Linked DNA regions of Homo sapiens. The protein of the gene in region 2 purifies or fractionates together with the protein of the main gene of each other region. This does not show direct contact. Each region holds a gene or a part of one and is shown on either strand. Other genes may lie near its edges. The genes, in order: KCTD3 and MPPED2.

The links.
Region 1: the proteins of MPPED2 (region 2) and KCTD3 fractionate together in Homo sapiens (co-fractionation; one large-scale study listed by BioGRID). This does not show direct contact.

Annotation. Positions count from the first base shown.
Region 1 is NC_000001.11:215,580,546-215,584,371, forward strand, and holds part of KCTD3 (BTB/POZ domain-containing protein KCTD3), read left to right. Parts: intron 1-3,826. UniProt on the Homo sapiens protein: Accessory subunit of potassium/sodium hyperpolarization-activated cyclic nucleotide-gated channel 3 (HCN3) up-regulating its cell-surface expression and current density without affecting its voltage dependence and kinetics.
Region 2 is NC_000011.10:30,537,667-30,541,492, forward strand, and holds part of MPPED2 (metallophosphoesterase MPPED2), read right to left. Parts: intron 3,809-3,826; exon of another isoform or gene 3,713-3,808; coding exon of another isoform or gene 3,612-3,712; intron 1-3,611. UniProt on the Homo sapiens protein: Displays low metallophosphoesterase activity (in vitro). May play a role in the development of the nervous system.

The DNA.
Region 1 (3,826 bases), on a different chromosome or scaffold from region 2:
TGAAGAATAGTGTAGACCGGTGATTTTTTTTTTTTTAATTGGGAAAGTGATAGGACTCTTAGTTCAAAATCACTGTACTCATTGAGAAATGTTGATGACAGAGAATGGTGTAGAAGCACAAAAGTGGTTGGAATATACTAGCTTAGATTATTATTTCATTTAATTGCAGAAAAATCAAAGATACATAAACTATTTGTTTATCACTGTTGAGTTCGGTTAAGAAAAATAGTCACAATAAGCTGAAAAATATCTAAAATGTCTTCTAAAGTTTACAGATATAGTTTAAAGAATCCCAGATGTATTTTTTTTTTAAAAATCTGAATTTATGAAAGGTTTGGCATGTCTGGTAAGTGCTGTTTATATCAGTAATCTCAGGTTTATATTTTCCTTGTAGTAATGATTAAGTGCAGACTTTTATGTTTTAAGAGTGTTTTGGCTGGGCACGGTGGGTCACGCCTGTAATCCCAGCACTTTGGGAGGCCGAGATGGGTGGAGTTCAAGATCAGCCCGACCAACATGGTGAAACCCCATCTCTACTGAAGATACAAAAATTAGCCAGGTGTGGTGATGCATGCCTGTAATCCCAGCTACTCGGGAGGCTGAGGCAGGAGAATCACTTGAACCCAGGAGGTGGGGGTTGCAGTGAGCTGATAGCTCACCATTGTACTCCAACCTGCGCAACAGAGCAAGACTCTGTCTCAATAAATAAATAAACAAATTTTTAAAAAAAGTGTTTTGTGGATTTGTAATTTTAATTATGAAATAGCATGGAAATTGTTTTTTGCATAATTTCTTTGGGGATGGTTTTGTATGAGGCAAGACTAATTTGGTAAAGTAATTTTTTTTTAGGAAGCATTGTTTTGAATTTATCATCTTATATATTTGAATTGAGGTGACTTGTAGACCCTTGTTTACATATTATGTACATATTTTTGTCAATAAGGAATTCCAGAAGAATTGTGAAATGATAAGTGATCCAAGTGTAACAGCATAACTTCCGTTTTGTTACTGTACACAATACTAAAGATTGCTCTTTTCCAGAACCACCACATTATTACGCAAAATTTAACTCACTGGGTAATAATTGTATGGAGGATGATGCTATTACATTTTCCAGTCTTTGCGTTTGCATTGATCACGATCTTTCTGTGCTTTCACCAAGTGTCTGACATTTCAGAGCAATATACTCATGTAAAGTGACGAAGGAAGACAATTGAGGACATATTTGGATTTCCTCACATATAGTTAAATCATTCAACACAATGGCAATAAAAAGATTTCAAAAGAAAGAAAAATATTTAAACTGTTTAAAAGTGTAATCTTTTTTACAAGTTATTTTTCCTCAAGTTTTTGTATCAGTAAGTTACAAAACCTTTAAAAAAAGAGTAGTACAGTGAAGACCTGTATGATGTTCTCCTAGCTTCACTAATTTTCTACATGGTTAGGTTTTATGTTTATGTCCCTTTTTCTTGCTGAGTTTATGACAGTGTTACTTCTATTAACGAAGAGTAGTTGTGTGAATTGCTGCCCCCTTGGGGCTTATATTCCACTTTAGATCTTTAATCCTTGTGGAGTTTACTTTTTTGTATGTGGTATGAGATTTAAGGATTTATTTTCTTCTCAGTGGGTAGGTAATTATGTTCTGACAATTTATTACGTAAATCATTCTTTGTCAGTGAATCTGATAGCCCATTTTATCTTGCTTTATGTGTGTGTATATACTTGGATCTGTTTTTCAGTTCTCTCATTTCCTTAAGACATATGTCTATTCTCATACAACTTGAGGTGAAGTATGTTCATAATAAGTTTCAAAATCTCACAGGGCATGTCCTCTCTACTGTATTTTATTGAGGTCTTCATGTAGGAAATAACTAGACGTAACTCTATTCTTCGCATAGCTGTCTTAACCAGAGGGTTGGTTCACTAGGCAGCAGTAAGATGATGGAGAGGTGAAATAACAGAGCATATTCTTGTTTTATATTTTGTTTTATTTATTATTATATATTTTTTGTTTTGTTTTGTTTTTGAGATTTTGAGACAGAGTCTTGCACTGTCACCCAGGCTAGAGTGCAGTGGCGTGATCTCGGGTCACTGCAACACCTGCCTCCTGGGTTCAAGCAATTCTCCCACCTCAGCCTCCTGAGTAGCTGGGACTACAGGTGTGCACCACCACACCTGGCCAATTTTTGTATTTTTAGTAGAGACGGGGTTTCACCATGTTGGCCAGACTGTTTTCAAACTCCTGATCTCAAGTGATTCACCCGCCTCAGCCTTCCAAAGTGCTGGGATTCCAGGCGTGAGCCACTGTGCCTGGCCTTGTTCTACATATTTTAAATGTATTACTTGTATGGAAAGTTATAGAGCAAATATGTACCTTCTTTGTAATTTTTTAAAAAACAGGTAAATTCACATATCTTATTAAGAGTTAAATTCTGTAGTTGTTATAGTTATTTTTAAATATGCTGTCCTGATTCTTTTATCCTTTTTTGACATCTCTTTATTGTGTAATACCCTAATTACTATAGAGAAAAACAACTTAGAAGTAATATGTCTGTAAAAGATGAGATTATATAGTTTTTTTTTTTAAGTGAATCCAAGTTTATTAAGAAAGTAAAGGAATAAAAGAATGGCTACTCCATAGCCAGAGCAGCCCTGAGGGCTGCTTGACTGAGTATACTTACAGTTATTTCTTGATTATATACTAAATAAGGGGTGGATTATTCATGAGTGTTTCAGAAAGGAGCAGGCAATTCCCAGAACTGAATGTTCCTCCCCTTTTTAGACCATATAGGGTAACTTCCAGACATTAGATGTCATTTGTAAACTATCATGGGGCTGGTGAGAGTGTCTTTTAGCATGATAATGCATTATAATTAGCGTATAATGAGCAGTGAGGACGACCAGAGGTCACTTTTGTTGCCATCTTGGTTTCAGTTTTGGCTGGCTTCTTTACTCCGTCCTGTTTTGTCAGCGGGATCTTTGTGACCTTTACCTTGTGCTGACCTTCCTTGTTACGCTGTGACTAAGAATGCCTAACCTCCTGGGAATGCAGCCCAGCAGGTCTCAGCCTTATTTTACTCAGTCCCCATTCAACTCTGGTTTGAACACCTCTGACATGTTTTCCCCTTCCCTTTTACAAGGGTACTCTTAATCCTAAGGGTTTCAGAGGGAGGAAGATTCATCTTCTGTAACTTCTGCAGTCTGAATAGGGATGATGGTATTTCTGCCTATTAGGGTCTTCTGCATTCAGAGTAGAGGAGAGCTCAGTTAGAAACTGTCAGTATGGTGAGAACTCTGATTTCTGACAAAAAGTGATGACTGAAAAATTAATAAGTGTTCGATTTAAGAAAGCACTGAGTAAGCTTATCTTGCATTCCTACACAAAGAGAACAACAGCAGTATATTCTACAATAACAAGGCAAAATAAGTAAAATTATCCCAAGTAAACTAAATAAGAAGGCTTTTCATGAACTGGGAAATTGTTGTAACCAAGCTGATATGGAGTTGGAACCAAGCTGATGTGCTAGCCAATTCCAATACATGCCCACAATTAGAATACTGATCCAGATTTCTGTGTTACCCATGCCTCTTGTTTCTTCTGAACAGCAGCCACAGATCACTGCTTGGTCCACAAGGATAAGCAGGATGAGTCCAAATTGCAGAAAGAACTCAAAAACTACTGATGAGACAAATCTAATAAAAAGCATACCATAGTTTTTGAAACAATTTTCCTATTTTCAGTCTTTCATTTTTACTAAAGAAATCATGGTAGGACTGATTTGTTTGCAAAATAAGCTTTAGTCTTATTATACTTGGCCTGATTATT
Region 2 (3,826 bases):
GAAAGGAGGAGAGTAGGGAGGAAGGAATTGTGAACTGGTTATCACAGTGGGTCTAATTGGAAGCCCAAAAAGAAAGTTTAACTTCCGCAAAAAATTAATGGATTTTTTCTGTTAGAAAGGTTAGAAATTAATATGCTGTTACCACGTAGAAAATTCACTAATCCACTGTGATCTCATTAGTAACCTGGAAACCCTCCTCATTATAGCCGATGTTGCTTTTTTAGATGTAAAAATGTTTGATGTCTTCCTTTCCATCACTGAGACTTGGTTACACTCAGTCTCGGTGCTTACAATCTTAGCAACATTTCCTGTCTTTGAAAAGTAGTTTTCCCAGAGAATGAATGACTGTTCCCTGCTGGGGCTGACTGTGTCACTCTCTAAAAGTGATAAGCAATATCCCTATACCAATAGTTAAATGCTCACTAGAATAGGACTGTTTGCATTTATACTTAATGCACCAACATTTGAATGAAAATTTAATAAATCAGCCACTACATCTCTAAATATATGAATAAATGTAATATCTACCTATTCTAGTGTTTGTTTTCTAGCTTTCATTCTAATACTAACATACAGACACAGCCCCATTTCTCCTTTTCTGTAACTCAGCTAAGCTACAGACCCAGCTACTGCATCAAAATCCTTTGGGAGGTCATCTCAGCTTATCAGACAGACATCATTGTCATTATTTTGAATTAGACTGAAAGTAGCACAGATGTAAACCTCTTGTTGTAAATAGTTCCCTGTTCTATGAATCTACCCACTTTAAAGTAGCCAATCATCACATGGTACATAATTGGTTCCTCATCTTGACTTCATACTAGGCAATAAATTTTCTGACATTATGGGGAACACTAGGCAATTTCTGAATCACTTCAACCTCTTTCTCCACCTCCCACCTCCTTCAGAGAAACATTTAAATATCAAAGTCCAAGGAACAGCTGAGTAGAGGGGACAGTAAAAATGGGAAAAGTGTTTCTTCTCAGCTTTGAGCTGAAATAGTAAGTGTTTCTTCTCAGCTTTGAGTCCAAAGTAGACAGCAAGACAAGCAAAGAAGGCTCGCACATCTACACCACCACCATGATGCCATCAAAGAGAAATAATGTGTAGACACTAGGGAGAATGCACAGAAGATCGATTCAAGGCAGGGGATGGGGGAAGTGAGGCGTATACAGATGCAGACTTTATATAGATATCCTGACCCAGAGGCACTGAGAATCTTTGCTATCCATAGGAATAAGTACAAAGCAAGAGATGGTTTCAGAAGACAAGGCAGTGCAACATGCCAAAGCCACTCTGTGAGATGGTACAACAAATATCACCTGGAGCTCATAGGAAGAAGACATTTCCACCCACAGGCATAGAGTTGAAAATAAGACCTCTAGCAGAGTGGGCAAATTCCAGTGGAGATAATTAAAACTGAGACCACCCTCAGGAAACTACTCCTCCCAAATTGGGCATTTGATAAACACCTGGAAAAGTCAAGACAGCCAAACATTTTCACTATAAAAGTACATCTAAGGGAGACTCCAACTGCTACTGGAAGATCCTATCTGTTCATATTGTGTGAAGGCCCTCACACTATATTTTCATCCTTAGTTTACAACTTTACCACTTACTGTTTATGCTGCTGAGTTCTCAAATGACCTAACATTTCCCCTAAGGCATCGTGTCAAATATCCTAGCAAGTGAGTATCTTACCAAGGCAATCTAAACCCCAGAGCCAGATTCAAATATTAGAGTGATATTTGCACATATGTTTGAGTACACCTGGGGGACAACAAGGTGACATGGGAAGATGAGAAAAAAACATAGCAGCATAAAATCCCAAAGCAGGACTAAACCTTATGGGGCATCTCGTTCAATGTTTTACATGACATCTGAATCTCCTCTATCCCTTCCCTCTAGACGACATAATGTTTTGTGTTTGTTTGGTTTGTTGGTTGTTTTTTCTTTTGTTGTTTGTTTGTTTGAGACAGGATCTCGCTCTATCACCCAGGCTGGAGTGCAGTGGTACAATCATAGCCTACTATAGCCTCGACCTCCCAGGCTCAAGCAATCCTCCCACCGCAGCTTCCAGAGTAGCTGGGGTTATGGGCACAGGCAACCACACCCAGCTTATTTTTCTTGTTATTAGCAGTAGTACAGGTGAGGTCTTGTTATGTTTCCTGGGCTAGTCTTGAACTCCTGGGCTCAAGTAATCTTCCCACCTCAGCCTCCCAAAGTGCTGAGATTATAGGCGTGAGCCACCCCCACCTGGCTTCAATTTTCATTCTGAGGTTTCCAGAGAAGGAGAGCTCCTTCCTCCCCCTGTGCAACCCATCCTAGTTTTTTCATAGCTTTACTTGTTAGAAAGTTCTGTTTCAGATTCTGTACCTCTGAGAAAGCTGAGCATGGTCCAAAGACTTTGGCCTGGAACCTGAAGACTAAGTAACAATTTTAGGTCAGTCATTGGCTTTGGGCAACTTCCTTGATTTCTTTAAGCTTCACTTTTTCTCATCTGTAAAATGGGAATAATAATGCCTAATTTTCTGTGTTGCTATGTGGATGCAAACTATCAAGTACAGCATCTGACACACAACAAATGCTCCAAAAATAGAGTAGCAGAATAGCGTAAGGGTGAAGGATGTTTGGCTGCAGAGCCAGACTGCCTGGCTCTGAAATCCACTCCACAACTTATTAACATGCAACACCAAGCAAGGGGCTTAACCCTTGTGCCTTGGTTCCCTCATCAGTAAAACAGATATAAATATAGTACCTATCTCCTAAGATTGTTATGAGAATAAAAAATGATAATGTACTCAAAGCATTTAGAACAGTGTCTGACATGAAGTAGATACCCAATAAATGTTAGTATTTTTTTTTTACTAGTAACTAATAGTATTTTTACTACTATTAGTAGTAGTATCATTTAACTTCTATGACCTCCATCTCTTTTTCTGTTGTAGGGAGATAATAACATCTACCACTCACTCAGGGACTTTGTGAGAATTAAAAGAAATCACATACACAACACCCAGCATATACTGGGAGCGGAATCCATGGTCTTTAATATATTTATTTCCTGCCTGTCCCTCCTTCTTAATCCTAGTTCTGCACTCTGAAATAACAAGAAAATAAGAACCCAGTCCCTTTTCCATTGGACAGTTCTTCAACTATTTGAAAACAATCTATTATAATCCCCGGAAATCATCTCCACTCTAGTGGAGTAGCTACAGTTTCTTCCATTTTTCCTTGTGTGATAAGATGTCTAATGTCCTCAGAAGGCTATTTCCTCCCAGATACAATTTCACTGGGGAGAATCCCTCCCTTTGTAGTGTCAGAATTCATGGTCTGTGTGAATTCATGAACCAATGAGCTGTTCATCAAAGACAGATGCTAGCCCAGGCCATGGGGAGGTGGCACTGCTGAACAAATTGGCAGATTTTTCTAGAGAAGGCCTGAGCTATCATCTTAAACCATTTTCCAATGAACTTTCCAAGTTTTGTGCCAAGCCTCAAATCTTGTTCTTGAAGCTTGATCATCAAATGCTTACATATCTCACTGCATATTCAAACAAATAAACCATTCTTGTTTATTCAGTCTTGACATATTAGGGTTTTTTTACTCACAAAAAATATGATAATATTATGGCTTCCATTCTGATTCCTCTTCCGGCCATATTTATTATTGTTTTTCCAATAACAAATGAATACAGTATTGCAAACCTCATTGGTAGATCTTCAGAAAAGCTGTCATGTGGTTTGTTGTGACATGGATTTCTTCTTTAGACCATGTGTGCAGTATAACCTTTGTGTATACAATCAACCTATAATTCAGTGAGAGA